3 separate regions of the Homo sapiens genome follow, and regions 1 and 2 are each linked to region 3. Evidence: fine-mapped expression QTL. A gene starts in region 3. Each other region holds a variant in brackets. All regions are shown on one strand. Distances are from middle to middle. Region 1 overlaps SYT9 (synaptotagmin 9). Region 2 overlaps PPFIBP2 (PPFIB scaffold protein 2). Region 3 holds the start of SYT9-AS1 (SYT9 antisense RNA 1).

Evidence for each region. PIP is the estimated chance that this variant, and not a neighbour inherited with it, causes the effect. A credible set is the group of variants that fine-mapping cannot tell apart.
Region 1: its variant is the best candidate, but not a certain one, in a credible set for the expression of SYT9-AS1 in blood mononuclear cells (TOPMed, PIP 0.56).
Region 2: its variant is the best candidate, but not a certain one, in a credible set for the expression of SYT9-AS1 in whole blood (GTEx, PIP 0.50).

Annotation. Positions count from the first base shown.
Region 1 is chr11:7,448,817-7,459,531 of GRCh38, reverse strand. The region is part of intron 6 of SYT9 (synaptotagmin 9); the gene reads right to left. SYT9-AS1 (SYT9 antisense RNA 1) reads left to right here. Exons shown (of 5, transcript NR_103855.1): 3 at 1,573-1,736; 4 at 9,090-9,159. Among named protein-coding and RNA genes, the nearest start is that of SYT9-AS1, 12 kb to the left of the region's middle. RefSeq lists an enhancer at 7,457-7,968. The variant G/C (reference allele first, on the strand shown) is at 3,859.
Region 2 is chr11:7,585,480-7,596,194 of GRCh38, reverse strand. PPFIBP2 (PPFIB scaffold protein 2) reads right to left here. Exons shown (of 24, transcript NM_003621.5): 4 at 2,971-3,063. It overlaps LOC105376535 (a long non-coding RNA gene), which reads left to right. Exons shown (of 4, transcript XR_007062579.1): 2 at 5,801-6,089. Among named protein-coding and RNA genes, the nearest start is that of PPFIBP2, 77 kb to the right of the region's middle. The variant G/T (reference allele first, on the strand shown) is at 2,895.
Region 3 is chr11:7,461,106-7,471,820 of GRCh38, reverse strand. SYT9-AS1 (SYT9 antisense RNA 1) reads left to right here and starts at 5,986. Exons shown (of 5, transcript NR_103855.1): 1 at 5,986-6,068; 2 at 10,485-10,582. It overlaps SYT9 (synaptotagmin 9), which reads right to left. Exons shown (of 7, transcript NM_175733.4): 7 at 2,778-5,029. The coding sequence ends at 5,021. RefSeq lists an enhancer at 3,840-3,899.

The sequences.
Region 1 (10,715 bases), 12 kb after region 3:
TACATCTTATTTGTCACATCTGGGCATTCCCTCTTCCTGGAAACAATTTCTTTCTTGCCTTCTAGGATACCAAACCCTCTTGGTTTTCTTACTACTTCAATGACTTGCTCCTTCTCAGTCTATCGGTTTCTCTTCTTTTCTTTACCTTTAAATAGAATGTCCCAGTTCTTAGTCCTGGGACCTCTTCTCTTTACCATTTACATCTCATCCATTTTTACAGCCTGATCTTTCTCTGGAACTCTAGATTCCTGCATCTAACTGCTATTTTATGTTTTCCTATGGATATCCAATAGTTGCTTCAAACCTATTAGGTCTAACTCCTGATCATCCCACATAGGTGCTCTACCTGCAGTCTTCCTGAGCTCACTTAATGGCAGCTCTATCTTTCCACGGTCAACCTTGGAATCATCCTTTACTTTTCTCTCTCATACCCTACAGAAAACCCTATTGGGTCTCCCTTCAAAATATACCCAGAATGTAACCATTTCTCACCATGTTCCTTGCTTCTACACTGTCCAAGCCTCTGTTATTGCCATCTAGATTATAGCAGTAGACTCCTAATGGGTATTCTCACGTCCAACCTTGTCATTATCTAGTCTATTCTCAACACAGCAGCAGAGAGATCAGTGATAACTTTGGATCATGTCACATCTCTCTTAAAAATTGCCATGTTGGCGAATGAGCCAAAGTACTTTTGAAGCTCTACTGGGTTCCAGTTACCTGAGCTCTGCCCGCTGTTACCTTTCTGATCTCATCCCCTACTTCTCTCTCTTTTTTCTCTCCTGCATCCCCCACATTACTCTCCTCACTATCCTCGTGTGAACCTCCTTAAGGCCTTTGTATTGGCCGTTCCCTTAGCGTGTATTTCTGCATGGCCACAGGGCTTGCTCCCTCACCTCCTTCAAGTGTTTGCTCAAATATTGCAATTGTTTGTGAGCCCTACAATTACCTCCATTAAAATTAACCCCCTGTAAAAAGTAAACAATCTATGTCACACTTCTGATCCCCATTGCTTGCTCTATTAAATTAAATTAATTAATTAATTTTTTTGAGATGGAGTCTCACTCTTGTTGCCCAGGCTGGAGTGCAGTAGCATGATCTCGGCTCACTGCAACCTCTGCCTCCCAGGTTCAAGTGACTCTCCTGCCTCAGCCTTTTGAGTGGCTGGGATTACAGGCGACCGCCACCATGCCCGGCTAATTTTTGTACTTTTAGTAGAGAAGGGGTTTTGCCATGTTGGTCAGTCTAGTCTCGAACTCCTGACCTCAGGTGATCCGCCCATCACAGCCTCCCAAAGCGCTGGGATTACAGGTGTGCGCCACCGCACCCGGCCCTATTTTATTCTTCATAGCATTTACCTTCACTATAACATAATACATCTGTGTCTCCCACTAGTCAAGTTTCACTAGAGCAAAGATTTTTGACTATTTTGTCCCTAAAAATGTATCTTCAGCACCTATAGTAGGTATTCAATCAATATTTGTTGAACAAATAAATACATCCTTGAAACTCCCATTTCCTTATGCAAAGTGATTGTTTCAAAGGAAGCTTGATTGATTCTTACTTGAACAGAATTCTTACAATACAGCAAATGATGCCATACAGTGAAGCACCTTGAAAGATTGCTGGGATAAGCTGACAGCATGGCAGCCAAAATAGTGACCCCAGGCTTGCAGGAATTCTGTGCTTTCTGGAGGAAATGGTCATGGGTTTCCCAACCTGCCTTTTAAACTAAGGTAAGTCTCTTATAAAGACCTTTATGAGAACTGTTTGAGCCCTCATGACACTGCAAATCCATCTGAGATGATGACTGGGACCTTCACTGCCACTGTCTTCATTCTCATGGGTGTTGCCTGGCTCTTTGGCATTCAGAGCTAGCTCTCAGTTGCTTTGGTGCATTAATAGAACCACTATGCCTGTAGATTTGAAGAAAAATTGACATGGAGAATTTATCTAAGAAATCAGTAAGTAAAACTTGTAAAAATCATTTTACAAGTTGTAAGATAGAAGAAATTGAAATTCTGTCCAACAAGAACTTATTCAATGCTGACTTTGTGCCAGGCATTTTGCCAGGTGCTTGTTATACAATGATGAATAACACTTAGGCCCATTCTCAAGGAGCAGTGGGAGGTGCTGGGGATGACACACACACAGATAATATCAAGTGGCACCAAATGCTATGTCAGGGGCAGGCACAGGGTGCTAGGAGAGGATAGCACAGACGAGAAGCATTTAGCTCATACCACAGGATCTTCAGAATGCTTCCTGAAGAAGCTGACAACTGATTAGATGCTAAAAAGACAGGCTGGATCTAGGCAGGAAAAGAGGGGTTGAAAGGACAGCACAAGAAAAAGTTAAAGCAGAAGCAAGGGCATGGGGGTGAATAGAAAGCACTGTGTGAACCACCAGCCATTAGGTGTGGCCCCAACATAAAGTATAAGGAGGAGATGGAGGCAGGGTCGCAGAGGACCTTGAATGCCAAGGTAGGGAACTCGATCTTGATCTTGTTCAGAATGAAGGGCAGTTATTGAAGGATTTTTAAGTGGGAGAGTTACATGCTCAGATTTGTACTTTAGTACTTGAAGGAGTGTAGAGGTTGGATTGAAAACAAATAAGAGAGTCAGAAAACCAGAATTGAGTGATAGTATGGGATCAGCTGAAGCACCCCTCTTGCCTTGACAGATCTCACTGAGCCTGGCCCTGTGGAATTACTGGTGAGTGAGGATGGGAAGGAGGTCGTTGCCTTTAGCACTTGAGAACTCTAGGTGGCTGGTCCCAAAACAGGACGGGGCTGTTTAAATTTAGCATTTCCTGAATAGGGACCAATGGAGTTCTGAAAAAATAAGTCAAAAATATAAATACCAAAGAGATAATGAATGAAGAGTCATATATTTATCACCCACTCTCAACTGACCCTAAACTTTAGTGAACAATAAAATGGACATTAGATCTGTTCACCTGTGAACTTGATTTCAGGATATCACCATTACCACTTATGGAGGGTGGCCATTTTCTGGCTAAAGAGCAAGATCCCAAGGTCCTCTAGCTCTCATTTGCCTGACATGGGGAAGACACTGGAGGGAGGTGTAACCAGCCTGCTGCATGTGCAGGCAGCTTGCCTCTCTCCTCTGGGTGCCTCCACCCACTGTGAGGAGCTGTGTGCAGACTGTACCTTGTTTTAATCCTCCCTTGAGTACTTACACACTGACCAGCCCCCTCCTGCCTCCTGACTATTGCATACTGGAAACTTCTCCATGATCAGAGAGCAAAAGCTCAATTGCCATGTTTAGTAAAAGGTCTGCAGTAAGTCCAAATCAACTAAAAATAGTCAATTTAGTGGGTACTGACAGACCCTATGCCCCAGACCTAAAGAGTTCACATCAGGAGAGAAGACAGATGTATCCAACTAACTACAAAATAAAAATGAGAGGTGGTAAGTGGTAAATGTATAATCAAATACAATCTAAATACAATCAAACTATTAAGGGAGTACTTCATTCCAAATGGGGCATTGCTCACTAGAAACTTCATGGAGGAGGTGGCACCTAAAATGAACCCTGAGGATTATGTAGGACTTTTAGACAGTGGGTGACTTCCTTCTTGGGCACCTGCTGGGATCAGCCCCATCTGACTGGATGGTGATACTTGCTTTAGCAGACATGACCCAGGGAAAGGCCATTTTTGCCCAGAATTTACACAGGTCACAAAGAGCAGCTGTAGAATGCATAGCCTATTGTGATACCATGAGGGACTAAGTACCAACCCCATGAAGTCCTCAAGCAGGGGCCTTCACCCCTTTCCCAGGACCTTCACGTTCTCCTTTCTTTCTCCAATGGTGATTTACAGATGTGTTTTTCT[G/C]TATTTGGGAAAAAGTCTCAGAATTAGCTTAAATGAGCCAGGGACAATGGCTCATGTCTAAATCCCAGAACTTTGGGAGGCCGAGGTGGGTGGATCACTTGGATCCAGGAGTACAGGACCAGCCTGGGCAACATGGTAAAACCCCATCTCTACAAAAAAAAAAAATACAAAAATTAACCAGGCGTGGTGGCGGGTGCCTGTAGTCCCAGCTACTTGGGAGGCTGAGGTAGGAGAATCGCTTGAGCCCAGGAGGCAGAGGCTGCAGTGAGCCGAGATGGCGCCACTGCAGTCCAGCCTGGATGACAGAGCAAGAATCTGTCTCAAAAAAAAAAAAAAAAATAGCTTAAACATTGGAATGTTGTATGGAATATACACATCTAATAGGTTGAATAGAACTTCATTTTGAAAAGTCAATTAAATGTGTGCTAATTTTAGAAAATGTATTGTCTTGCAGCTTGCTTTTTTTTTCTCAGTGAAAGAGACAGAAACAAAGGCCCTTAAATGTGTTTGAAAAGAGGATACAAGATAAGAAACTTTCTTTTATCCTTAAAGGTTTAGAGGCTTTTATTGATATGTTATTAATAATATTAAGATTTTTGGCACTATTCCAACTATTAGCTTTTCATCTCAAAGATACTCACAATGTCAAAACAAATAAAACCTATTAGCTGAATTCGTTTTCTCTCATCTGTGTATCTGCTGTCCTCTATACACTGTGGCTGATAGTAGGCCACGGCATGTATCTCTCAGCCATGCTGTTAGCATTGGGCCTTTGTGTGACTTAGAAACAGAAGCCTCCTCCAGGCAAACTCACCACTTGGTGAGTGGAGAGAAAGCTGACTTTGAGCTGACTTTAGCTTCACACATCTCCTCATCCTGGCACCCTAGTGAAGAAACCACCTGCAAGACAGTGTGTTGGGGTGCTGGGGAAACAGCTCTTTGGGGAGGTATCAGGGGCCTTAGGTTATTAAAGGTAATGCCCAGGTCCAATCTCAGAATGAGAGGCTGTGTTATTCTGCATAACAATGTAAAATGTGTTCCCCGTAGGCAGTTTCCTATTGGCAGAGACAATTATGATATTAGATGGATGTTTCTTTCCCTGGCTATAGAATTTTTAATTTCAGTTACTCGCATTGTCTTCACTCGTGTTATCCCCAGCCCTTAGGAAATCTTCATTAAATGCTATAGTCTGGCATTTGCATGCTTTGGGGGAATGGGGAAAGGGACTGTGTCCGTGCTTGGGATAGGATGTGGGGATAGGGCAGGGAGAAGATGGTGGCTGGGAGAAGCAGCTGAAGGCCTCTAAAGATGGCTGTAGAGAAGCCTGGAGTGCAGCAGAGAGCGGAAATGGTAAGCATCATCTGGAATCATGAGATGCAAAAAAGACCATTCCTCAGGCCACTGCAGAGACAAATGGGAGGAAGACATCAACTAAGGGCTAGAGAGAAAGGGTGGGGACTCAGGGTATTTGAGTATTAAAATGAAGGGTGATTCTGGGAGCTGGAGGCTTGGACTCTCATCAAGGGCTGGAAATCAGGTAGGTAGCAAGGAAAGGAAAGAAAAGTGACTGGGGAGCAGCAATGTCAGAAAAGGGGCGACTCACCTGGACTTAGGGATTGGTATCCTGCCCTGTGGGGAAGCTGAGCCCTCTTGGCCAGCTGGGAGCCTCTGGCCTGTCAAACAAGAGGAGACCACAGAGGGTGCCTGCTGAAGGAGACTGGGCTTAAGGCCTCTTCCCTGGTGCTCCTGAGGAGGGCGACTGAGATCTGAACTTAGGGGCCATGCCCTCTGCGCCCTGGCCTGACTCCCTTTCGGCCTCCTCTCCTACAACTCTACCTCTCGTTGCTCATGGTCCTGGCCACACCTGCCTCCTCTCTACTTCTGGACAGGCCACGCTGGTCCTTGCTCCAGAGATGCATGCTGGCCATCTGCTCTGTGATGGAAATGCACTTCTCAGGCCTCTGCTTGGCTGTCTGCTTCTGGTCAGTCAGGGAAAGTGTCATTTTCTCAGGGCCTTCCCCAGCCACCCAGCACAAAGGAGTGCCCCATCACTGCTGTCACATCTTGCCTTTGTATTTGCATCGTCCAGCTTGTGATGACCTATTTTCTGTTCAACTGTATGCAATTTGCCTGTCTCCCTCCACCAGAATGCAACCTCCACGGCACAGGGGTCCCCACTCACTGCCTTGCTCAACACCTTATTCCCAGTGTTGGGAATAGCATGTGGCATATGGCGGGGCTCAGTAAACACTGGCTGAATGAATGTGTGCATGCTAGAGACCAGGACAACTGAAGATGGTCATGGGAACTGATGATAGATAAGCCAATGGCTGGCTCCTAGGGGTTACAGAAACACTTTGGAGTATCTTCCCAGCTTGTACTGACAGTACCCACTCCTCCCCATAGTGGGCACGCCACCATGCCTGGCTAATTTTTGTTATATTTGTAAAGACGGAGGTCTCAGTATGTCTCCCAGGCTGGTCTAGAACTCCTGAGCTCAAGCAATCCATCCGCCTTAGGCACCCAAAGTGCTGGGATTACAGGCATGAGCCACGGTGCCCGGCCTCATTTTATTCTTTAAAGGAGTTTCAGGGCCGGGCGCGGTGGCTCACACCTGTAATCCCAGCACTTTGGGAGGCCGAGGCAGGGGGATCATCTCAGGTCGGGAGTTCGGGAGCAGCCTGACCAACATGAAGAAACCCCGTCTCTACTAAAAATACAAAATTAGCTGGGCGTGGTGGTGCATGACTGTAATCCCAGCTACTCGGGAGGCTGAGGCAGGAGAATCATTTGAACCCAGGAGGCGGAGGTTGTGGTGAGCCGAGATCGCATCATTGCACTCCAGCCTACGCAACAAGAGCAAAACCTCACCTCATAAAAAGGAGTTTGGGTTAGGTTTTCTGTTCCTAGAAGCCCAAAGCATTCTACTTGACTCAGGGTGTGATAACTGTCCCGTTCAAAGCTCTCTGGGCAACTGGCTCCATTGCTATCTTGTATGGAATTTATGTTCTGCTCTAAGGACCAGTCTCTCTGAAAGGAGTATGGGTAAGGCAAAAATAAAAACAAAAGCACTCTGGAAGGGAAGGGGACGTTCAGAGCTGTCCTAATGGACAGACCAGGAGCAACATGTGGAAACCCCAGTGAGATCATTTTGACCGTATAGAAGCAAAACTTTGTCAAAAATTAGAACTTCTTCAGAGCAGCCTCTCAAGACATTGCACAAGAGGATGAGAGAAGATTGCCTTTGAAATGGCCCCAACTTACGTACCTACACCTCTGTGGGAAAGAAGCAGTGGACAGAGTCAGAGAGCAGCTTTTCTGAGTGAGGAGAACTGCAGGGAACAGAATCAGGAGTGAGAAGGCCTCTGGGAGCCAGGACATTCTTATCTAATACTTGAGGCCAATGTGGCAACAAGCAGAAGTGCTTGTGAGTAGATTTTCTACATGTTAATTACTTAAGATTACTATACTTTTGATTTATTTTACACTTGAATTTGATTTCTTATCATTGTTTGTTTTTCCTCAGTGTGTGTGTGTGTGTGTGTGTGTGTGTGTTTTAAATATAAACCTCTATTAATGCTGTCAGTTCTGTCTTACTTAGTGACCCTTGATTGCTCATTCACATTTTAAAATTAACCACTGGGTATTTTGTGTATTTTTTCTCTGCTTTTGTGTGTGCAGACTAATTTTCTAGCTATCTCTTTCTCTAGAGTTGGAATCCAACCAGCAGCAATGTCAGATTTGTTGTTGTCGGTCATGAGGTACATGCTAGTCCCTTGCAAGGAACAGTTTCAGGCACAGCTGGATCCAGAGGTTCAGACAGTGTCATCAGGACTCATTATCACCTTCTCTACTTCTCAAGTATGCTTTCTTTTGTTTCACTCCATCCCGGAGTGCACTCTATTATTTTGATGGTGAGATAGCAGCCAACAACCCCACATTTGCATCCTCACAGCTTCAAGTCCAGTGGAAAGATGTGACTTTTCCGGATAGTTCCAACAAAATTCCTGGGCCTAAATTGGGTCACACACTCACCCCGAACCAATCCCTGAATGTGATGATTGGGCTTAAGCCTGGGGAGATGCAAAGACATTCCTGGAGCTGAGGATGTGGATGCCTCTACCCAAACCACATGGTTAGAGGGGGAAGAGGGGTGAGTCCTCAAAGGAAAATGTGGTTCTTTTATCTGAAGAGGAGAAGAAAAGCTGCATAAGCAAAGTCATACATTTTCACTTCAGGCCTTTTCAAGCTAAGATAGCGAGGGAAATTATGTTCTGCTTTGGGGGAGTAAAATCTTTGCAAATACAACATTTAGTCTTAACAGAATGCAACATTTAAAAACACATCTGTGGGAAAACCACACAGAACACAGCATGCCTTCTAAAGTAAAAAAGAGTATTCCATTAGCTTTCAGAGTTTTAAAAACAAAGGGCTTTCTGTTAATAAATTTTAGTGCATATTATTCAGTGCATGTCCTATGTCCTACTGGGTTTAGAAATTATGGTTATTTTGAAGCATTTGATTAGGTGGGGAGGAAACATCAGAAGCAAAACAACTGAAAGTACATTAGCAAAAAACCTACATCACAAATCATTTGGGAATGTGAAGTCATAAAGGATGATGAATCGGTGCCAGCAGGATGGAAACAAAAGAATTTTCTTAAAAATTCTAAGGCATTGTTCTAGTTTTAATTGTTAAGTGAGCTGAATAATAACAGCTGAGAAAGAAAAGTCTTTTAAAACCAGCATTACTGTGTGATCCCGACACTGACCATGTCAGAAACTGATTGTGCTCTGACTGGTATAGCTGTGTCTTCAAAGCCGCTTGACCAGCACAGATGTGAGGTTGAGAGGTTTGCTGACATGTGTCGGCATGTGTAAAACTTTTTCCAGGGAGAGGGCAAGAGAAGGAAAAGAAAAGTTAAACTGGAATTCCAGTAGGTTGTGAGATTCATCTTGATGATAAAATAATGAAGAGAGAAAGCCTTTCCTAACAGGTGGAGAGAAGTAAGTCCGCATTTGGACCCAAATAAGCTTGGTAGCTATGTCCAACAGGCAGAGATGGAGGAACACTGTGAGTTTAAATCTGTATTTTGTCAGCTTTTCTTACAATAACAACTCCAAATCTTAGTTGCTTACAACAATACACACTAATTTCTTGCTGATGAGTTTGTGGTTGGCTGCAGCTCTGCCAGACAGGTAGAAATCTACTTCTGCGTCTTCTTGTTCCAGGACCGAGCTGAAGAAGCCCCCGTCTTCCAGCGCATGTTATTCCCATGACAGATGCTAAAAGTTCAAGGGGGTGAGTAGAAACATGTGGAACTGGCATGTTGTCATCCTTTCATATTCTATTGATTGAAGCAAATCCCAGGCCCGAGTCCTAAGTCATTGGAGTCAAGACCCTGACAAGAGTGTGCTGGGGCATATAACCATGAAGAAATAATACCATCTACCTTAATCTGATAGCTCGGCCAGTTATTTGCCTCATGATGTTGGATAAATTAGTTAAGCCTCAGCTTCTTTTATCTGGGGAGACAAAACTGTTTACTTCACAGGGTGAGAGTTAAACTGGGGATGCCTGTACAGCACTGAGCACAGTGGTCTGGATAGAGTAGAAAATGTAACATTGGATTATTATTCATCGGAGGGATCATATTACAGGCAAAGCATGCCTGCTTGGGAGGCGGGCAATGACTGGCATCGGGGAGAAGGCAGACAGGAGTTGAGAAGTTAGCTGGGCACAGGGGAGGGGGTGGTAGTTGGGCAGGCAGGAGAGGGTTTAAGGTGGTGGGAAGAGCAGGGGCCCACCAGACCCAATGCTCACAAACACTGGGGAATGGACGAATAAATGGGTACATGAGGAGAGACAGTTCAGGCCCTCTCTCAAACAACTCTAGGAGAACAGCTGGTCTGAGGATGGCTGTGGCTTTATTTTCTAGGATAGCCTGGTCACCTTGCTTCCTGTGGGTGAAGCAGACTTTGCCCCTTGAGATCAAACCTGGCAGGCTGTGCTTTCCACACCCCCAGTCCAGTTGCTTTTCTTGTCCCTACTGTCATCATATCCTGCCCTGTACTTCCCCTTCTCCAAACCAGCCCCCACTTCCACTGTCTCCAGCCTTCCTCTGGTGCTCCACACCTACCTCCCCTACATCCTTAATCCTTCATGTAAACTTTCTATCCACTTTCTCACTTCAACTGAATCCTGGTTCTCTTTTGAAGTCACAACACTTTCTTTGTAGCACTCTCAAGAGGCCACTTAGTCCCTCACATTCCATGCATCTATGCACCTCAGGGTGGCCTGGCAAGGTTGTCGCTTTTGCTCCATTTTTTTTTTTTTTTTTTTTTTTTTTTTGAGGTGGAGTCTCACTCTGTTGCCCAGGCTGGCTCACTGCAACTGTTGCCTCCTGGGTTCAAGCAATTCTCGTGCCTCAGCCTCCTGAGTAGCTGGGATTATAGGCATCCACCACCATGCCCGGTTAATTTTTGTATTTTTAGTAGAGACAGGGTTTTGCCATGTTGTCTAGGCTGGTCTCAAACTCCTGATTTCAAGTGATCCGCCCACCTTGGCCTCCCAAAGCGCTGGGATTACAGGTGTGAGCCACCATGCCTGACCTCTTTTGCTCCTTGATGCCTTTGCTCCTCCACTTTCTTATAACCCTCTGAGTCTTGGCTTCTCCTCCCTGGTTCCATCAGCAACACCCTTGGCCACCCTCCTTCATTCTGTGAAGACTAAGCCCCTGCTGCTCCCAGTTTTCCTTTCCACCTCAAGCCCTGAATCTGCCCCACCCCAGTCAACTGGGCCTGGCAGCCTTCTCATCCTTAGTGATGACCCATCCACCGTGAAGCCACGACTGAAAA
Region 2 (10,715 bases), 120 kb before region 3:
CTTATTATGAGGGTTAAACATTTCTATGGTCTATACCATGCCTTGAGGCCATGTGTTGGTGATACTCAAGGAATCATAGGATCTCTAGCATTCTATAGCTAATTGTTCAGCTCCAGGGGCTTTCTGAACCTCAACGCTGATTCTAAGTATTACAAATGAAGGGATGTAGGAAATCCAGACAAAATACATAAAGGTCATAAAATGTGACCTTTGTTCACTAAAAACAACTATTTTTGAGACCCTAATAGATGCTAGGCATAATTTTAGGTACTGGAGGATACAGAAGTTAAAAAAAAAAAAAAAGGATAAAAATCCTTTTCCTAAGGAGTTACATTATAATGAAGATACAAGAGATTCTGGTTTTGTTTTTAACTAATCCTAGAAACAAAGTATTTTGTTATGTGTGATTTGCCTTGTTCTATGAGTAGAACCAGGAAAACTTTCTGGGCCAAGGACTCTAAATTAATTCAGTCTGGCTAAGCTGCTGTGTGCATTAAGCAAGAGGCTCTACCCTGCTGAGAATCTGCCTAACCAGCTCCACTGCAGAACAGCAGTGATCACTTAACAGACACTCCTGGAGTCTGCCCATAAGCTCCCAGTAGAGTAGAAACTACTAGGGTCAACTTCTGACTTTACTGGCAAGCAGCTTCCCAATTGTGTTAGGATTATTTAAATGGGGATTATTCAAGAATTTGGAATTTTAGAAAACTATGAATGTGAAAGGGAGCATTATTACACAGGACTTTGAAAAATTAAATTGTAATCCTCTGTAAATAGGAATGTGCTATTTCAATCATGAAGGGTCCTGGTTCAAAAGTTTGCAATTTCATACTGTTTGCTGCAAAATCTTACATTGGATACTCTTTCATTAATCATGTCATTGGGATAAGAGTTTCAAATTACACATCCCTCAAACATCTGTGCTACAATGTGCTATTCAATCTGGCCCTTGCTACCTTTCTAAAGGCAGCTCGCACCACCCTTTTGAGCACAGACTGCAGGCACAATGGCCACTTGCTGTTCTTCCCACACCCCAAGCACACTCTTGCCTCAGTGTGTGGGCTGGACTGACTGCCTGCTCTGCCTGGAATGCACTTCTCCAGGTATCTGCATGGCTCCCTCCTTGGCTTCCTCCTGTAAAGGAGATCTTCCTTTTACTACACAATCCTCATCCTGCTTTACTTTTTTCCAGCGTTCTTACCAGCACCTGAAATAGTTAATGTATTGGCTTATTGTCAATTCACACTCTCCTTTTTCTTTTTTTTTTTTTTTTTTTTTGAGATGGAGTCTCGCTCTGTTGCCCAGGCTGGAGCACAGTGATGCGATGTTGGCTCACTGCAACCTCCACCTCCTGGGTTCAATCAATTCTCCTACGTCAGCCTTCCGAGTAGCTGGGATTACAGGCACCCATCACCATGCCTGGCTTATTTTTGTATTTTCAGTAGAGACAGGGTTTCACCATGCTGGTCAAGCTGGTCTCCAACTCCTAACCTCAGGTGATTCACCTGCCTCAGCCTCCCAAAGTGCTGGGATTACAGGCACCCATCACCATGCCTGGCTTATTTTTGTATTTTCAGTAGAGACAGGGTTTCACCATGCTGGTCAAGCTGGTCTCCAACTCCTAACCTCAGGTGATTCACCTGCCTCAGCCTCCCAAAGTGCTGGGATTACAGGCATGAGCCACTGCACCTGGCCCACTCTCTCTCTTTCAAATGGAAGATCCACAAGAATGGGAATTTAGTCTGCTTCTTTCACTGCTTTATCCCAGCATCTAAAACCAGCATCTCACAAGTTGTAGATACCCAATTATTTTATAATGAAGAAATCAATGAAGTGAAGAAAAATACAAAACTGGAATGTAAAACTATATATTTGGTATGAGCTCAGTTATTTACAATAGAGGCAAAAGAAAAAAAACCAACAACACTGGAAAAAAGGCCGAAGTGTTAACCTGCTTCTTCACATTTTTAGAATTTTAAAGGTTTTTAAAATCATTCATTACCCTTATGTTCATAAAATACAATGAAAGAGTAAAATAAGTAAGGTAAAAAGAGAAAAAACAAACACACTGCCACCTCATAACCTTAGTGCTCCAAGCTAAAGCCCATAGCCTGGGGTGGGTTCCAGGCCCCGCTCAACCCCTCCCTTCATTCTACCACCAGTCTAACTCATCACCCTTTAAGCTTTTAAGGAGCTGGGATTAGGATACTAGCCTTTATATTTTCCAAATCACTAATTAATATCTGATGCATACCAGACCTTGAGTAAATGCTTGCTTAATCAATTTATATTTTCAAGAGCTAACACAGCAAAGTGCTGGGCCTGCTTCTTCAACAGCCTTCTTATGAGAATACCTAACTCTATGTCCTACCAAGGCACACAAACTTTCAACAGCGAAAAAGCTCCCTTGATGATCTTTCTCCGTAAAAGGTTTTGGAGCTCCTCTCTTTCAAGCAAGACAGCTATCAAAGGCTTAGCCCCTGTTACCAGCTCCAGGGGATTTGGCATTAAAGGGATCAGTCTAGATCCAGCTTCAGACAATTTGGACTTGATTCATTAGCATTCACCCTTAGGCCTGTATCACCCACAGCTCTGTTTTATTAGTGGCATGAGGATATATCTCCCCTCCCTCGCAAGACTCAGGAGCTTCTGGGGGACAGGGCCCATTTTGTTCATTCTTAGCACCTGGAAATCAGCCTGGTCATGGGGCTGCCAGTGTATAGAAGCGGGTGCTTGGGAGTGCATGATAAATGAATGACTGAATTCACAGCCCCCCTAAGCCAAGTCTAGAGTTAAATTGTCCCCTCAGTTACTTAATGTTTTATTTCAGGAAAAGTCTTTTCTAAAAACATAGGCATTGGAAGGAGAAAAATTCCAACAGAGAAAATCTCTTG[G/T]GCTTCCCTTCCACTTAGGGGAAGCTACATAGTAGGAGGTAACAGGATAAGCCGATTCTCACCAAAAAGTACCCACCTGCAATATGAGGGACTCCTTATCCCCTTCTAGACGTGCCAAGCGTTCCTGGTAGGTTTCATTACTAGCAGCACTGTGGTGGTTTACCTGGGACTAAAGAGGACAGAAAAAAAAGAATACACTTAAAAGGTTGGAAAAACATCTTACCAACTTCTAAATGAAATAAGGGATGCATGTAATTTGTGAGGATAGTTTCACTGATTATATGTACAAAACCAATCATCAAAACAGGAAACCACAAGATTTCAAAACTACCATGAGGAGAACCAGATCACATGCCACTGAAAAGTGCGCCCTGGAAGTTGGCACAACCACCTCCTGGATGACCTCACTCCTGGCCAGGAGGGCCTCTGTGAAACTCTAGGCCCAGCAGTGCTTGACTTGACATGCTGGGTCTGGGTTAGCCAGAGGCACAGCCTCCAGAGGCATGGCGACAATGAGGGTCTGCTCTTTGAGGAGATTGGAGAGCTGGCACCGTTCTCCAAGGGACTACATGGGAACAGCTTCTGCACAGATCTTGGTATCTCCTAATTCTCATGCCAGGGTCCCCTGAAGCCAAGGCACACCTTGCTGCATGGAGGCCCATCCTGAACATCACAGTGAGCATGAAGGATGGAGGATGTCAACTACAAGGCCCTTCATTCACACGTCCCTTCCCACCCCAATCCCACCCTCCAATAAGAGCTTTGGTAGCCAGGCTGGCAGATCACATTTCCCCAGTGCTAGAGCTGAGAGAAGCAAGCTAAGACAAAACATCTTGAGAAGAACTTAAATAATAGCCAGAGGGATGCCAGAGCAAAAGCTAAGGAAATTACAGGTAGCCAGAAACTATAGAAAAGAGAGGAAAGGGAGAGGATGTGAAATGTCAGAGGAGAGGCAGAATCTTACAAATGTCCCAAGCAGAGAAAGGAGGTGTCACTTTCTTGGGTGTGTCTGACCTGGTTGTGGGCAGACAGGAGAGAAGGAGCTAATGTCACCAAGCTGGCCCCAACACCTCCTTCCTCCATGCAAATGGAAGACTGAAATCAGACTGGTCTGCAATAGGCCACCCAGAGGCTTGGCAGTTTGAAAAAGTAGATCTGATTGCTAAATGTGGAACTGAGTATTATACAATCTGAGCTGGTCCAGTGAAATCAGCACTTCAATATTCACGAGGGAGGTGTCTACCACCCTAGAGGAAAGTCTTAATTGTGCAAAGAGGCAGATGTGAGAGACCCAGAGTTGGGCCACCTTGTCCTAGGCCATTTCCCCACATTTCAACTTTTAGCATGGGCTCTCCCACCACCCTCCATGAGAAAAGGCACCTCCTTCCTCCCCTCATCCCACCCCTTCCCAATGCACTGCATAGGTGAGGGAGGCAACAGAGCCATGCCCAGTCCTAGAACAGAAATGTGGACCAAGCATACCGCATTCAAACCCTGGATGCGCACTAGTGAAAGATTCATTGATTGTTTGTTGAAGGTGCAGCCAGAGGACAGGCCCAGGGGCCACTCCCCAGGCCAGCTGTGCCAGGCAGCACCTGCTGCCACACCACTGTCTTCTGCTCCAGCCCCTCTGGAGCCTATGTCTTGTTCATTGTTATGGAAGCTCTTTCATGCCACAGACAAAGAACCTTAACAATCACAACTGACTTCTTTGTTAATGGCAGTTTATTGTTGTTAAATTAATATTCCGGTTCTCACATGATCAAATTCTCTGACTAGAATCCAAGAATATATTATAATCTATATTTTCTCAGAACCAGAGAAGAAAAGGTAGGAGAATAATTCTTAATAGCAGGTCAACTTCTTCTCTGTCAAAGAACTCACATGATGGTGATTTCCAGTGGACAGAGAATTAAACAGGACCCAGGTGTCCAAGTGAAGCTCTGCAGGTAGAACCCCAGTGCCGAAGTCCACATGGACACGGAGCCACCTAGCACTGGCAGCCGCCCATTCTCTGGCAGGAAATGAAGGAGAGAAGACCAAAGGCAAGACTTCTTCCAGAGACTCCAGCAAGCCACTGTACCAACTATGCCTTATTCAAATGGTGTGCAGTATATTCTTCATTATAATAAAAGGTCTACCCATACAATCACCCAGAGAGGTAACTATTTTTACTAGTTGACAAAAAAAAGAGTAAGAAAGTTGAAATCATAAATTCAGTTAATAAAATGTATGACCTAGATTCTATAGCACATGCTAGAAGGGGGATCAAAAATCTAGATCCACGCTAGCAGCCAGTAAAAAAAGAGAGGCACAATCAGTTAACAGGATCCGCAGATCAGTATGGTAAAATCAAATCAATTGCCTAGGAGAAGCATAATTATTCCGGAGCAAGGGAGAAACTTCACGTTTTCATAGACAGATTTTGTGTGATGGGATCAGCAATATCCATGACACCCTTATAGTAAACAGAGCCCAGTAGAACTCATTACTTTTGTGTGATGTTCTCAGAATAGTTCAGAGGCTAGTGGACAATATGGGCCAAAGGTGAAAGCAATTCCATGGAGACTAATATAATATGGTCCAGGCACAGTGCTGTAAATACACAGCAAGCACCTTGTGCTCAACATGTGCCAGGCACTGTTCAGAGCACTTTGACATAATGTTTGAGTTTCTTACAAAATGTTTCTATTGAGTAATTAAAATATATTTGAAAATCTAGAAGCACTGTTAGAGGACCTAGAACAGTGGTTCCTCATATTTGCCCCTCCTATAACAGATTCGAGGAGCCAACTCCTTTCCTAGCAGGCATACTGGTCCATACAGCAGTGGTGTGCATGGCAGACAGGTCCCTCCCCCACCCCAATCACTGTTCTAGAGGAACAGTGCATCTTCCTCTTCTACAGGTCCTTCAAAATCACCGTTCTCCAGCAAGCTTTTTAAAGGTAAACAGCAGTGAAAGATAATGTTCCAGATGGAAACCCACAGTATCACTATCCTTTGCTTTTGATGAAGTCAGAGCCATGTGTTTTCATGATCTATATAGGACTAGGATGTTAAAAAAAACTGCGTTCTTCAGAAGGGCATAGGCCAGGATCAAATGCCACCTCTGCCTGGAGAAAAACTTGGAAAGCATCTGAGAACAGGGCCAAGAAGAGGATTGTCTTGCTGAATGCTAATACTCATCAGCCTAAGGTAAGGATTTGCCTTTGGGTGAATCTGTATATTCTGTATTCTTATAACCTGGCAACAGGTTCAATCACGTTCTGGTATCATTCTTGCATTATAAAATGACTACATCATCAAGGCATAATAAGCTTTGTGGTTATCAAAATGGGATTCCAATTTATTGAGAAAAATATTTTAAAAGACTGAGTTAGGACACATCTCTGTTTTGCTCTACTTTAAAGACAGCTTGCTTGGTCAACAAGTATACCTGCTTCTTTAATAGTGGAATTGCAAATAGAAGGCTTGGATGGATAGTGGATCCCTGCATGATTCCAGGTTTGAGGTGTCTCTGAAAAGTCTTGTCCATGTTCCTGATTAGGTAAGTCAGCGATAGAGCAGTTGCCCAGCTCTCCACGCATGAAGTCAGGTTGCAAAAACCATGCCCACATTTCACAGAGAAGAAAGTCCAATCAAATTCTGAAGGATGCTACGTGCTAATTTTCTGAGGTTTTTTTTTTTTTGGGAGGGGGTTGTTCTTTTTGAGACAGAGTCTTGTTCTGTCACCAGGCTGGAGTGCAGTGGTGCGATCTAGGCTCACTGCAACCTCTGCCTCCTGGGTTCAAGCGATCCTCCTGCCTCAGCCTCTTGAGTAGCTGGGTCTACAGGCATGCACCACCATGCCCAGCTAATTTTTTGTATTTTTGGTAGAGATGGGGTTTCACCACGTTGGCCAGGATAGTCTCAATCTCTTGACCTTGTGATCTGCCCACCTTGGCCTCCCAAAGTGCTGAGATTACAGGCATGAGCCACCGTGCCTGGCCTACATGCTAATTTTCTATTGTTCCCCACTGTGGGATGGCAAGTGACTATAAAGGAGAGTATCATCCACCCCCGTTATACTTGTTAAGGATGCTCAATCCACAGATGAATATAAGAAAGAGCTAATTTTTACTCAACCAATGACATTAGCCACTAGGCTAGACCTGCCAATGGTAAGCTGTGTTACATATATTTGATCAAACTTCCTCCCCCTCTGTTCTGATGGTTATTGCTACAAATGTGACAGGGAAAAGTCAATCTTCTCATTCAAATTTTCAGACCATTCATTCAAATGGTCAGAGCTATTTCTGATACTGTAATTCAGGTTAGTTACCTAAAAATATAGTGAGAACCATGTGATCTGTGTGCCCTGTGGAGAACTGTTAACTCCAGACATTTCCACATCCTCTTCAATTTTGACTAAAGAATGCCACAGTGAAACATACTACCTCTCCTATATCACGGAACTGAATCAAGACAAGGGCTTCTCGAATGGATATTTTTAAGAACTCAGCACCCTTAGTCAAGATCATTGAAGCCAAGCCACCTTTGTGTCTATCAAGTGTTGCTCTCAAGAGGCTGAAAAAAGTCTTGGACACAAGGAATTCATCCTCTAAAATTCAGACCTCGCGGAGGCAAATATAAAACACAGCACAGAGTTGTCATATCAAGGTCTTCCCTAGGCCTTGGGAGTAATATTCCAGAGTGTCTTCAGAAACAGTGACAACACACCTCCTTGATTCTTACAGGTTATCCTAGGGTCTGTTTCTGTAAGACCCAAACTGCTACCACTGCCGTGGCTGGGCAAGCCTAATGTGCAGCTTGAGCAATTAACAGCCTAAGGTGTGGGTATTTTCTAAGCCATCCCTAACTGAGAGGGGCCTCAGGAAAATGTATCAGCTGTGCAGGGTATTCTATGGTTGGGATCCTGGAGTTGATCATGATAGTCAATCAGCCTCAGCAGGGAGAGGACAGAGAGAGAACTGTGAGTAGCCAGGAGGGAGAGGACTGACTGACCAGCAAGATTCCAGCAGGGATAGTTAAGTCCCCACATAAGGGGCAGTTTGGACCGTACAATGATACTAGCCTAACCTAAACCAGGTCCTGTCCCTACCTCTCCCATCCCTCCCCTTGGTCACTGAGTAAGAAATTTACTCTTGATAAGTTCCTCATGCACAGAGAGCTGGTTGCTGGCATACTCAAAGAAATCAAGATTTCTGCACCTTGGAGAACATTGCATTTTAGGGATGAGATTTTTCAGGGGATATGTCAGGTCCAAAAAAGAAACTTCACCATGAATTGTGGCGAACCCTAGATCAGCCAAATTGTTCCCCTTGTTTTCTTGCTAAGGAAAAGAAACAGAGAAGACTTGTATCAGTCTTGGCAGAGAATCAGCACCCTGCTTTAATGGAATCTATTGTTTGTGTAGACTAGGCTGAGATCATCGCCTTTACTGTAATTATGTGGTATAAATGAGGGCTGCCATCTTCTTAGAAAGATCCTCATCTCCCTGCCACTTGATCCAGGCTTGACTTGTTGAAATCCTTCCTCTGAATTTTTAAACTTGGGAACAGAGCATGGTAGTGGTGGTGCCACAGTTCTGAGGTTGTCAGTGGCCATGTCCTGCTCCACGTGGAAAAAGCTGGTTTGCAGCAAGAGACAGCTATGAACCCAGTGTGCACAGAAAAGCAAACAAAAGCCAAGAAAAAGACTGGAGGCATTCTCATCCCCGGTGCACGCTGCCTAAAGGCAGAGATATATTCCAGCCCTTCCTGTTGGTTCCCTCTTGGCCTAGTTCAAACTGAGTTTCTGTTATTTGCAACCAAAAGTTCTGGTTAATACATTTGTCTCAAAAGGTGATCAACTGACTAAAATTTACTCCTTTGGAAACAGACTTGTAGGAAAGAATTCCTGCTATTTGGATATAGTTCTGAATTGCAAAGGAATTCTGCCACTATTGCTTGATTTGCTTAAAGTGGCAATTTTTAAGACAGGGCTGTCAGTCCTAAGCCAACTATAGTTCAAACCAGGATTATCATCAGGGGCTAATTGAGATCTACTTTGTGGCACAGGGAGTGTCTGTGTGGGATGTACTAGGATAAAAAGGGCACTCAGTGTCCTTTGTGTGTGGAATAGATGGCTTTCTATCCACCACCTGTTTGCTTCCATTCTTATTTCCCATGTAGAGCAAAAAGGTTAAGACAGGGAATGAATACAAGATGCAACAGGCCCATGGGCATCAACCGGGGTTGGTGGAGGTGGGGAGCAGGATGTGTGATATGAAAAAGTAAGTTCAAACAAAACAAGAAATAAACAGGAGCTAAAGTCTAAAAGATATTATCAGAAAATGAATCAGAAAATGAATAAATGAAGGGTAAATAACAGAAATAGATCTAACAACTGTTTAAGAAGTTATGTCGAAAGAATTACATGTCAGACACAGCTGTACAAATGCCAGGTCTGGGCGCTGGGAGGCTGAGAGCTCTGGGTTCCCTGTTCCCCTCATTTGGCCCAGCTGAACTTCAAGTCAGGGGATCCCTGGGGACTTTCTTGTGGTGCTTCCATATTCATTTACAGAATTCCTATTGCATCCTCCTCCCCAAGGGACCACCTTCTCTGCAGAAAGAGGACAAACCAAGAATAATTAGGAGGCTGGGGCTGCACCTAACCATGTGTAATCTCAAGTAGGTTACCTCATCTCAGGCTTTCCATCCTTTCAATAGAAAAAATCATGCTTCACGGAGCAACAGAAAGGGTCAAGTTAGGTCAGCATACCTGAAAACGTGTGGCACTAAAACTACAGAGTGCTCTTTATAGTAGGGTGCTCTAAAAATTCCTGTGTGATATAAACAGTTTTTGAATAATCATAGGAATATGGAAATGATTTTTAAATTATAATTTAACAAATGAATTTAGCTAACTTATAAATGATTTAGCTTTGTTTAATCTAAAAGACCAACATTCAGTTAGAAGCATGAGTTAGAAGGCATCATTTAATGCCTTCTACAAAAAGTTTTAATTAATTCACTCTTTTTGTGTAAGAGAACAACAGGGGCAATATTTCTGATCAGGATGCCTAAGAAATATCTATGAAGATCTGTACAAACAACCCAAGGGAACAATAACCAAAATACTTTCAGGCTTGAAATGAAAAAACAAAACAAAAAGAAAGCCTCTGTGACAGTGACAACGCAGAACCCACCATTAGCTAATAGCCCTGGGATCATGTCTTTGGGCCACATTGCCAAAGATGAGTTCACTTCTCCACTATCCCTGAACAAGTGCTCACATTTTTGAGTCATACATTCATGGCCACATATTTTTCTTTCGTACAAGTGTTTTATTGTGTACTCTAAGTATTATGTGCTACATACATGTTTATAATGAGTACACTGGGAATTTTTATAGCTAGTAATAACCAATCATAAACACTTGGGTTTTTATTTCTGTTCCAATCTAGAGGTTAGTTCAAATTTGGGTTAAACATGAACTTTTCAGCCAAGTTAACCCCCAGCGGCCTCCTCAAAGACATCACCCTCTGACTGCAGTGGCTGTTCAGATCTATGACAATGCTCTCTCCTGGCCTAGCCCTTCCACTGTAGCTTGGCCAAGGGATAGCCATGTTAGTCTCTCCTTGGAGCTCTAGACAGGGTGAGTGCTTGATGCCATGGCTGGGGTCCTGCAGATTTGTGGTGGGCAGCATGACTGCTTTATGGCCTGGCTGGCCATTTGCAAGGAGAACACACTCTTCACATGTGCTCTGGTACACCTCAGGGATGCTGGATGAGGGCAGTTCTGTAGCACTCCCCAACTGGCATGACCCAGGAGACTTCC
Region 3 (10,715 bases):
GAAGTTGTCCTGTAAGTCTTCCTTGGGGTACTTTCTTGACTTGTGGGACTTTTTTTCCAATTATTTTCTTTTCCTCAGTTTTCTATTTCACTTCTTCCATGAAGGTCAGCCTATCTTGGAATGCACTTGATAGAAAGTAGAATAGTGGGGCTGGGCGTGGTGGCTCATGCCTGTAATCCCAACACTTGGGAAGGCCAAGGCGGGTGGATCACCTGAGGTCAGGAGTTCGAAGCCAGCCTGGCCAACATGGCAAAACCCTGTCTCTACTAAAAATACACAAAAATTAGCTGGGTGTGGTGGTGGGCGCCTGTAATCCCAGCTATTCAGGAGGCTGAGGCAGGAGAATTGCTTGAACCTGGGAGGCGGAGGTTGCAGTGAGCCGAGATTGTGCCACTGCACTCCAGCCTGAAGTGGAGCGAAAATCCATCTCAAAAAAAAAAAAAAAAAAAAAAGAAAGAAAGAAAGAACGAACAAAGAATAGTGTATGCTATCCCAGAAAGGCCCCATTCATAACATGCCTCTCCTCTTGAAAGCTGATCTCAGAGACATACCAGCATTTCCTGAACATTGCCAAAGGCTTGACTCTGTCTTAGATGATCCCAAAGCAACACCTCTATAGCTGCGGAAGTGTCCACGGTGATTGCCAAAGGATACTGAGGGGTGTCCTTCCTCTTTGGTCCCGAGAGAGGACTGAAGAAGGAAGAGTCAGGAATTCCCATTAGAGAGAAAACCTGAGTCTCAGAGGAGTTTCACTGGCCACTCAGCCTCTGGTTGTGGTCTGTGCCAGCAACCAACTCAGGACTCCTGTGTGAGAGAGATACTCTTTGTAAGGATGTGGAAGGGCACAGTAAGCAACAGGTGAGCCTTCTTCTCTGGGTTGAGTTTGAATGGCAATACCAGAGGCTGGGCACTCCTAAGCTAGACACCCTCAATAGTCCCAGGTGGCTATCAGTGAAGTGGGTGGCCAGGGGCAGCTAAGTGGCCTGCAGAATTATCAGGAGCCACATACAGGCAGTAGACATTGTTTTTGGCTATATTCACATCCATATTAGTGTCCTTTTCTCAGTTCATTAAATTACTTTGCATAAAATTGTTTTCATTGAAAGTTCATAAGCACTGTATCAGTCAGAATCGGTTGCTTTTCTTTAGCTTATACTGTTTAACTGTCCAGTTTAGCTCTTCCCTTCTTCTCTACCCCTTATTACTCATTGCATTCTCCATGTGTGTTGAGCATTCGATGTGCTTTTAAAATGACAGCTACCTAGGAAGCCCTTTAACTCATTAACCTCCCCACTCCCACTCCCATCCCCACTTTCTCCAAAGATGGCCCTGATGAGCCACACCTTCTCGTATTCCATTCTTGTGTAATTTCTTTCCCGTTGAATCTGGGCTGATTCAAGATTATGACTTGCTCTTGACCCTAGTATGTGGCAGAAATGACTCTAGGTTCCTTTAGAACTTACTTAACAGAACCTTGTAGCATCTAGCTGGACCACTTGCAATGCTAGCTCTGGAGGAAGCCAGTCACTTTATCAGAACACTATCTTGAGATGTCCCTGTGGTGAGGAAGCCCGAACTAACCATATGGAGAGACTATGTGGAGAGAGATGTCCAGCCATTCTGCAGCTGTTCCAGTTATCTCAATTCCAGAGCCAGATGTGAGTGAAGAAGCCATTATGGACATCCATCCGAGGCAGGCATTCAGATGATGCCAGCCCCAGATGCCATCTGAGAGCAACCATGAGACTGCAGGGGAGAGCATCAACTAAGCTCAGTCAACTCAGATAATCATGAGAGACAATATATTTCTATTTAAGCCACTATGTTTTGGTGCTTTGTCATGCAGCAGTAAGTCATTGGAATGTCCCCCCTCCCACCCCCCGCATTGCAGGACAGGGTGGCCATGAAAATAGCAAGCCATTTTCCATACCTATCCTTTGTCAGTCTCCCTGACTCAAGTGTAAAATAAATAATTATTTTCTTCTCATCATATGAAATGTAGTTCTACTGATGGCCATGTGAACTAAACAATACCTTTTTTTTTTCTTTTTTAGAGAGACAGGGCCTTGCTCTGTCACCCAGGCTGAAATGCAGTGTTGCAATCTTGGCTCGCTGTAGCCTCAAGCTCTTGGACTCAGGCGATTCTCCTATCTCAGCTTCCTAAGTAGCTGGGACTACAGGTACATTGCTAATTTTTTAAAAATTAGCCGGGGGGGCGGGGGGTCTCTTTTGAAATTAGATGGTGGTCTCTCCATGTTGCCAGACTGGTCTTGAACTTCTGGTATCAAGTGATCCTCCCGCCTTGGCCTCCCAAAGTGCTGAGATTACAGGTGTGAGTCACTGCACCCAGCCCTAAATCATACCATTTAGAGTCATGATTGTTGGAGAATTTTGAAAACATCTGCATTGTAGAAACCTTTCCCCTCCCCTCCCTGACCCTTGCTCCTGTCATGTACCAGTGTACTTCCTGGACATCAAAGTGCCTGCTGCATATGTCCAACTCACTGGCTGGGAGGGTGCTTCAGCAGCAACACACATCAAGGGCAGGTCTCCTTGAAGCCAACAGAAGTAAGAGGAAGGGGCTGAGAATCAGTGCCAGTTGGGTGGGGGGACACCTGGCCTCTCCCTCTCTCGGCACCAGCTTTTCCCAAGGTCTGATCAGAATGTTTCCTTTCTACTGCCATGTCCATTTTTTCATGGTATTTTAATTTCCTTCTTTATCCTGGAAAAGACATTGGAGAATCCCCTTCCCCCAAGTTAAATAAGACAAGGTTGGAGTTTTTCAAAAGGAGCATTTACTAGGAAACTAAAGGGCAACCAAACAGAATGCAAGAGAACAGAGGCAGAGTTGCAAATGGGCTGAGGGAGTTCAAATTTATAACCAGCCTCTGCTCACAGCTGTACTGGCTAGGCAAAGCTTTCCAGACACAAAGCCACCTGCCTGCCATGTGGATAGTACTCTTTGCCTGCTTGCCCCTACAAAGCCACCTTCTATTTCATACCAATAAGCCAGTTGCATCCTCATTAGTATCCCAAGGCTGCTGGCTCTCTGGGCAGGAAGCTTCTGAGGTGGGGAACAGTAGGCACAGCTGCCTCAGGATCTCCAACCCAGGCTTCCATTGCCAAGGACATGTCAGAATTTATTGGGATTGCTGCCTGATATCTATTGGAGCCAGTCTGCTTTCTCTGGGACCATTCTTCTGGGCTCATCTGCCTAGCTTTACAGACAATATTTCTGCTAACTATCCTGGTGGCGCTAGCCCTTCATGTTTTGCTTCTAAACACTGGTATGGTGGAGGATGTCTGAATGAGGAGGGATGAGCAGAGGGGAACCTTGAGCAGAGGAAGCCAAGTTTTCCTTATGTCATCAGACATAGGCAGAACCTTGGATTCTCTTTGAATCCCAGTGGTTGGAAGCCAATCAGAGAAGTGAAGCTTGAATGTAATGACACTGCTTCCTACAAACAAAGGCCTATAGCCTTCTTAGATCTGCCATCAAAGTAGAGCTTCTTGTATAGTACTAGGCAGCTGGGGCAATGAGAACTTTCTGAAGACGTATAACGATCCTTCCTCCGCCCAGTTAGTTCCATGCTGAAATGTTAATTCAAACAGAGATAATGAGCTTTCCAGGAAGGTAAACTACAATCCAACTCTGGATTCTGCTGTAAAGAGATTGTGTGAAAAGAAAAATACTATCTTGGAGTAGTGGTGCAAATGTGTGGATGGGGTGCCTTGCACCTATAATGGGACAGAGAGGACCATTAGGTAACAGCCCCCAGTCCTCCCAGGATATGCTGAGGCCTTTGGTTTCATTTACGTGGAGGCAGAAGCAATGAGGATGAGGCGCATAGCTGGCCATTGGTTGGCAGACTTGGTCAGGAAGGAAGCTGAGTAATGAATGAGATGCCTGGGGAGGGCCCTTGACCTTCACTCTTGTAGGTATTTCCATCCCCAAGTGGTGTGAAAGTGATGTATGTGTCTGAAGTGAGAAGGAAACCTCTATGTGTGGTTGCCCAAGGCTATGACTCTGGGCTGTTGCATATGGAAATACCCCAGAAGGCATTCAGGCCAGAGAAGCCCAAAAGCTGTGCCTTTCTATAGGGGATGGCTGTGTTCTCTCTCCATGATCTCATCTCACCCATTGCTGTACCAGTTTCTGAGGCTGTTCCCTTAGTGGACGAATGTGCCTAGGAAAGGATATTCCACAATGCTCATGCCACTGAGATGTATGCCCTTCTAACTAATTACTTTTCATTCTAATAACACTCCCAGTTGAAAGGAAGGGGCTGCTAGCTACTGAGTGAGTAGTGTTGGGGGTCTCTGATTCCTCAAAATCTGGTTTTAGCAGAAAACAGGGCCATGTTGATACTGGTACTCTCTACCACGTGCATGGGAGGAGGCAGTGAATTTGCTGTGAACTAGCCCTCCTTGCATTAGATTTTTTCCAGGGAACAGCCTGCTTGTCTTGGTATTCTCTTGGGGCTATTCCTTGCAAATCTGGAGCACTTCTTGGGGCACAGTTATTTTCTGGAGACAGTCATTAGCTCAAAGGTAGTCATGTGTGAATTGAGATCTGCTGCCTATTTAGCACCTGGATATATTTTTAAATATTCTGTCCTTCCAGGGCATTCTAGAAAATAATATTATGTTGGAATAACGATTTCCAGGGCAGATGCTATGTCCTCATCACCAAGGGCTTCATATGAAACATTGAGTCCTGGTACTCTTGGTACTGTCACTATATCTATCATTTGTTTTTGTTCATAGTCCGATCTTGGTTCTTGGCATGAGAGACATGCTTCCCTGCAGCACATCACCTTGGGCCACCTGCAGAAGGTGGCTGGACCATTCAGGTTCACCAAACCCAATCTGGAAAGAAGGCCAGTTAGTGCTGTGGTTACAGCTGAGCATTTGGTCACTGAAATCGTCTGGATGTTGCTGGATGGAAAAAGTTACTTAAGATCTTTGTGAGATGGTTGTCCTATTTTGTCCTTGGCACAAGCAGTCCTCTTACCCATGGTCATCGTTTCTGCAGGAAGAAAAAACAAAAAAATAATTTGGCTTTCATTCATACATTTTTTTTCTTTTTTTTTTTTTTTTGAGACAGAGTCTTGCTCTGTCACCCAGGCTGGAGTGCAGTGGCGCGATCTTGGCTCACTGCAACCTCCGCCTCCTGGGTTCAAGCAATTCTCCTGCCTCAGCCTCCCAAGTAGCTGGGATTACAGGTGCCCGCCGCCACACCTGGCTAATTTTTGTATTTTTAGTAGAGACAGGGTGTCACCATGTTGGCCAGGCTGGGCTCGAACTCCTGACCTTGTGATCTGCCTGCCTCGGCCTCCCAAAGTGGTGGGATTACAGGCGTGAGTCACTGTGCCTGGCCCATTCATACATTTTTAATGTGCACCAAACAAGTGCCAGGCATGGTAATAGATGCTGGGGATACTAAGCCCATAAGTAGGACACTCCCCCTGCTTTCAAAGGGCTCACAGATGGAGATATTATGATGTGAGAAGCTGCATAGAATACTGCAGGGGCAATGGGAAGGGAGAAAGTAACTTCAAAGGGATTGAGGAGGTCTATAGAGAGCATTCTGATTGATGAGTCTTGAGCTAAGCCATTTAGGCTGAAGAGGAATCCCTCTGGAAAGAAGAAGGGTCACTTGGGGTAGAGGAAAGAGACTGTGCAAAGGCAGAATGCAATAAAGGGCATGGTGCATTGAAGGAATCATCACAATTTGGTGTGACTGGACTGTAGTGTGAGGAATGAAGTGGTCGGAGGTAAGGCTGGTGATATGATTTAGTTGTGCCCCCACCCAAATCTCAACTTGAGTTGTACCTCCCAGACTTCCCACGTGTTGTGGGAAGGGACCCGGCAGGGGAGGTAATTGAATCATGGGGGCCGGTCTTCCCCGTGCTGTTCTTGTGATAGTGAATAAGTCTCACGAGATCTGATGGGTTTATCAGGGGTTTCTGCTTTTGCTTCTTCCTCATTTTCTCTTGCTGCTGCCATGTAAGAAGTGCCTTTTGCCTCCTGCCATGATTCTGAGGCCTCCCCAGCCATGTGGAACTGTAAGTCCAGTTAAACCTCTTTTTCTTCCCACTCTCGGATATGTCTTTGTCAGCAGCGTGAAAATGGACTAATACAGCTGGGATGGAAAGATGAGGTCTGAGTGGTGCAACATCATTCCTTGTTTCCGAGATGTGAAGGAGGGGCTCTCTTAAGGAAGCCCCAGACTTAGACTAGCAGTATCTCTTGTGTTTCACACTCAGCCCAGCATTCAACTTAATTTAAACTCAGGGCACCTTCCAGCACAGATTAAATGTAGTAATACTGTGGCCATAGAGAGAAAAAACTGAAGTGACTTCTATGGATATAGGAATAACAAAATTTACACGTAAACTATAAAAGAGTAGCAACCATTCTGACAATGAAATTTATGGACTTCATTTCAGAGATCAAAAGTTCACATGTGAGGCTATAACTTACTTAAGGAAAGTATTAAAAGCCAGTGTGTTCACTGCAAAGGGAAACCACGTTTGATTGTGACCCGTGGCTTTGAAGTGTGTGCATGTGTGTGGGCACACACACACATCTCTGGGAAAGGGGTCTTTGTTTCTGTGTCTAGGAAGAAAGACTGAATGATATTTGTCTTAATATTGTGGTTCAAATATCAGTTTGCCAGATCAGCTGCTACCCTGGAGCACCATCCAAATAGCTCTACTTTCGTTTTTTTTGAGATGGAGTCTTGCTCTGTCCCCAGGCTGGAGTGCAGTGGCGCAATCTCGACTCACTGCAAGCTCCACCTCCCGGGTTCATGCCATTCTCCTGCCTCAGCCTCCTGAGTAGCTGGGACTACAGGCGCCCGCCACCACGCCCGGCTAATTTTTTTTTTTTGTATTTTTAGTAGAGACGGGGTTTCACTGTGTTAGCCATGATGGTCTTGATCTCCTGACCTCGTGATCCGCCCGCCTCGGCCTCCCAAAGTACTGGGATTACAGGCGTGAGCCACCGCGCCTGGCCCCGAATAGCTCTACTTTCTAAGCCACCATCTACATCAGGCCCGTGGTTCCCTAGCCGCTCTTTCAACTGTGAAACCCATACCCATATCAGTTTGCCAATTCCTGAGTTCCTTCCCATCAGAGAAAGCAAATTGTTAACAGGCTCAGTGTCACCAATGAATGTGGTCTGGAATTAGTTGTGATGGTATCAGCCCATATTCCTTCATTTTTGGGTACTTATTGTATGCCAGGCACTGGGATATGGACTTTACAAGTTCTTAAAAGACCCCGTGGGGTTCTTTAATGGAGGATGCAGCGTTGTAGAGACACTAATTTGCACAAGGCCACACTGTGACTAAGTGTCAGAGCTGAGATTTAAACCCAAGACTTCCAATTTCAAAGTCCAAGCTTTAGCAATTATGTCAATTCCCTCTGTAGGTCCAGTCTACATTTCTGATGTATTAAAAGTACTTTATCTGCCTTGGCTTTCTAGACTCCCTAAATCTAGCCAGATGAGCTTCCTTTAAGAACCCTAGTCCAAACTAGTAGCATACAGCAGGTGCCACATCCCACTTATGGTTTCCTAGCTGCTTATCCCATTTCTCTGGATTCCCCCAGCTAGTGACATGCATATGTATCTTGTTTGCCCCCACAGTTCTGTGCACAACCTCATTTTTCCCTATTATGACCTAATTTTACCTCTTCATTTAAGCAGTTCCTTCAGAATGCTTTGGGTTTAGCTCTCCCAAAGTACCCAGCCTTAGGGACCACCTCTGTACCTGATTTCTTATGGCCTGTCTAAAGCCTGCTTAGAGGGCTAGGCTGCAACCTTAGCCAATTTTTTTTACCAGTCCCCATACCCAGGGATACCACTAGCATTGGCATTGTTGCCAATGGCCAAGTCATAGCACAGCTCCCACCTGAACTCCATAGCTGGGTTTTGCTCATTTGGTGAATTTCCTTGTGTGTGTAATTAGCCAGAATCAAGGTCAGCCTCTGGAAATACGGCGGTGCAGCCTACTGGTCTCCCCCTTCTTAAGGTGCAGCCCTTCACTTGGGTGAGTTTTCTGGGCTCTGAATCTTTTCCTCTTCTGGACAGCGCCACTAAGGTCCTAGAATGCTTGTGAGCTGGGACCAAGCCCACAAGATGACAGGATTAAGGAGTTTCAATACATCTGGTGTCGTGATAGGGTCATTGCTACCAGCAATATTGCAAGAAAAGCCTCTTGAAAACAAACTTATTCTAGGGAAAGTCAAGCATACAAGTCAGTTCTGAAAAAGTTGTCTCAGGAGAAGACATGAGTAAATTTTGCTGTTGTTGTTCAGCCCCCTTTTGTCTGGCTTCTGTTGGGGGAAGACTAGAAAATCTCAACCAAATCAAACAAAATAAGCAAATTACACCTTTCCAAACTCCTATAACCTAGTGAGCTGTTTTTCAGCCAAAAATTGTATAAAACAAAATGTGAGAAAAGAAAGATTTTTCCATAATTCAGAAAAGCATTGACCCAGTGGGATTTTGTTGAGAGGAAGGTGGTAGAGACTCAGTCATCAACACCGGAGACAGTAACGGTGGTTTAATAACTGTTGAGCATAATGCTAGCTTGGCTGGTTCCAGTGCTGGTGCCAGCCCCATTTCCATGGGCAGAAGCAGCAGTGTCCTTGTTATGAGACCTGGTGGGCTCCCAGGCAGTACCAGGGGTTTAGAAGGTACCAACAACTCCAGTAGTATCAACAGGAAGTAGTGGTTACAATCCTATCTGAACAGAGAAGATTGTAAGTGAATTCAATTGTCCTGAGACATAAGGATCTAATTTGAATTAAATTGAATTGAAACCAAAGATGAGAACTGTCCTAATGAAAACTGTAATGTGAAGTGACATTTCGATCACAAAAATGACAGCTGATATGAGACAGGCCATTGAAACAGACCCCAAATTAAGAACATGAAAAGACAGAGTGAAACATTAGATAATATCTCTCTGTGAATCTGAAAATGGGACTTTATTACAGGAAGTACCTAAGGGCTCTGAACTAAGAAGCTTGTCAAAAATGGAAGTGATTCTTATTACATGATTTAATCTTATTATGTACTTAATATTGTTAAATTTACATTTAAAATTTTATTTAAAAAGCACAAAAATCTCAGGATTTTGTTGACTATTTATTGCTTACCACAGCTTTGCAAATATATGAAGATTCATCATGCTCTGCTGGTTTAGAATCTGATTTTGTTGACTGTTGCTTAGCACAGCTTTACAAATATATGAAAAATTATCACGCGCTGCCAGTTTACAATCTGATTAGCTTCTTTCTGTAAAGAGGACATTCTATTTTTTTTTTACTTCCTCTCTCGGCTTTAAGAACAAGTATGTTAAAGAAATAAAGCAGTATGAATGTGACTATACTGCCTTTCAGGAGATTGGGCCAGTAGCATGGAAAAATGAAAGGGTCCATTTGGGCAACAACTACTATTTATTGAGTGCTTAAGCACTAGCTCTATCCTAAGAGCTTTGCATACCTTATCTCATTCATGCCTCACCTTAACCCTCTGTGATAGATATTACAATTACAGTTTCACAGTGAGGTAACTGAGTCTGAAAAAGGCCAAATAATAAAGGTAGTAAATGGCAGAGCCAGAATCTGCCACCATGCTTTTATGGATTAAAATGTATGCTCTTAAGTGCTATGCCCAGAATGGTAAATTATTGTGCTTTGAATGGTAACTCCACTACAGCACCTTTCTAGAAAGGATTCTTAGTCCAGAAATGAATTCTGAACAGTCCAGACTTCACAGGAGAGTGTGTTAAGATTCACCGTCAAGTAGACCTTGAGGGGAAAGGTGGCAAATGGTGCGTGGCATGTGTGACATGTAGATTGTTATTTACTGAGAGGGGCTCATTAGAAACAATCAAGAAGCAAAGGCTACAGTGAAGGCACCATTCAGAAGGTAAGACAAGGACTGTCATATTTTTCGATGAGGTGGCAAGATAGGAAATTACTATAGGGCCAAAATTACTCTACCTGATGAAGTAAAGTGGAGGATGTTTGGAGTCTGTTACTTCAAATTAATATTCATTACATGTATTCATCATTCAACAAACATTTATTGAGCACCGGGCATTTGTGCTGAGCCCTAAGAAAACAAAGTTATGCTCAGCGCTGTGGCTCACGCCTGTAATCCCAGCACTTTGGAAGGCCAAGGCGGATGGATCACCTGAGGTTAGGAGTTCGAGACCAGCCTGGTCAACATGGTGAAACCTCGTCTCTACTAAAAATACAAAAATTAGCTGGGTGTAGTGGTGGGTGCCTGTAGTCCCAGCTACTTGGGAGGCTGAGGCAGGAGAATCACTTGAACCTGGGAGGTGGAGGTTGCTGTGAGCCGAGATCATGCCACTGCCCTCCAGCCTGGGTGACAGAGCCAGACTCCCTCTCAAAAAACAAACAAACAAAACACAAAGATAAATAATGCACATTCTATTCTTGAAGGGCTCAGTGTGGTCAAAAGAAGACTATAGAATCAAGGATGAAGAGAAGGAACACAGAATAAAAGGACGTCTCAGCAGGAAGCTCTGTGACTACTATGTGTGAGTGTGTGTGTCCATAATTCCATCTACCCAAATCACGGAATAGGAATGATAAAAGTTATAACAAAAATTCGATAAGGGTGAAATTGGAAAGATTCCTAGGATATATGTGATGCACTGGGTTATAAAATAA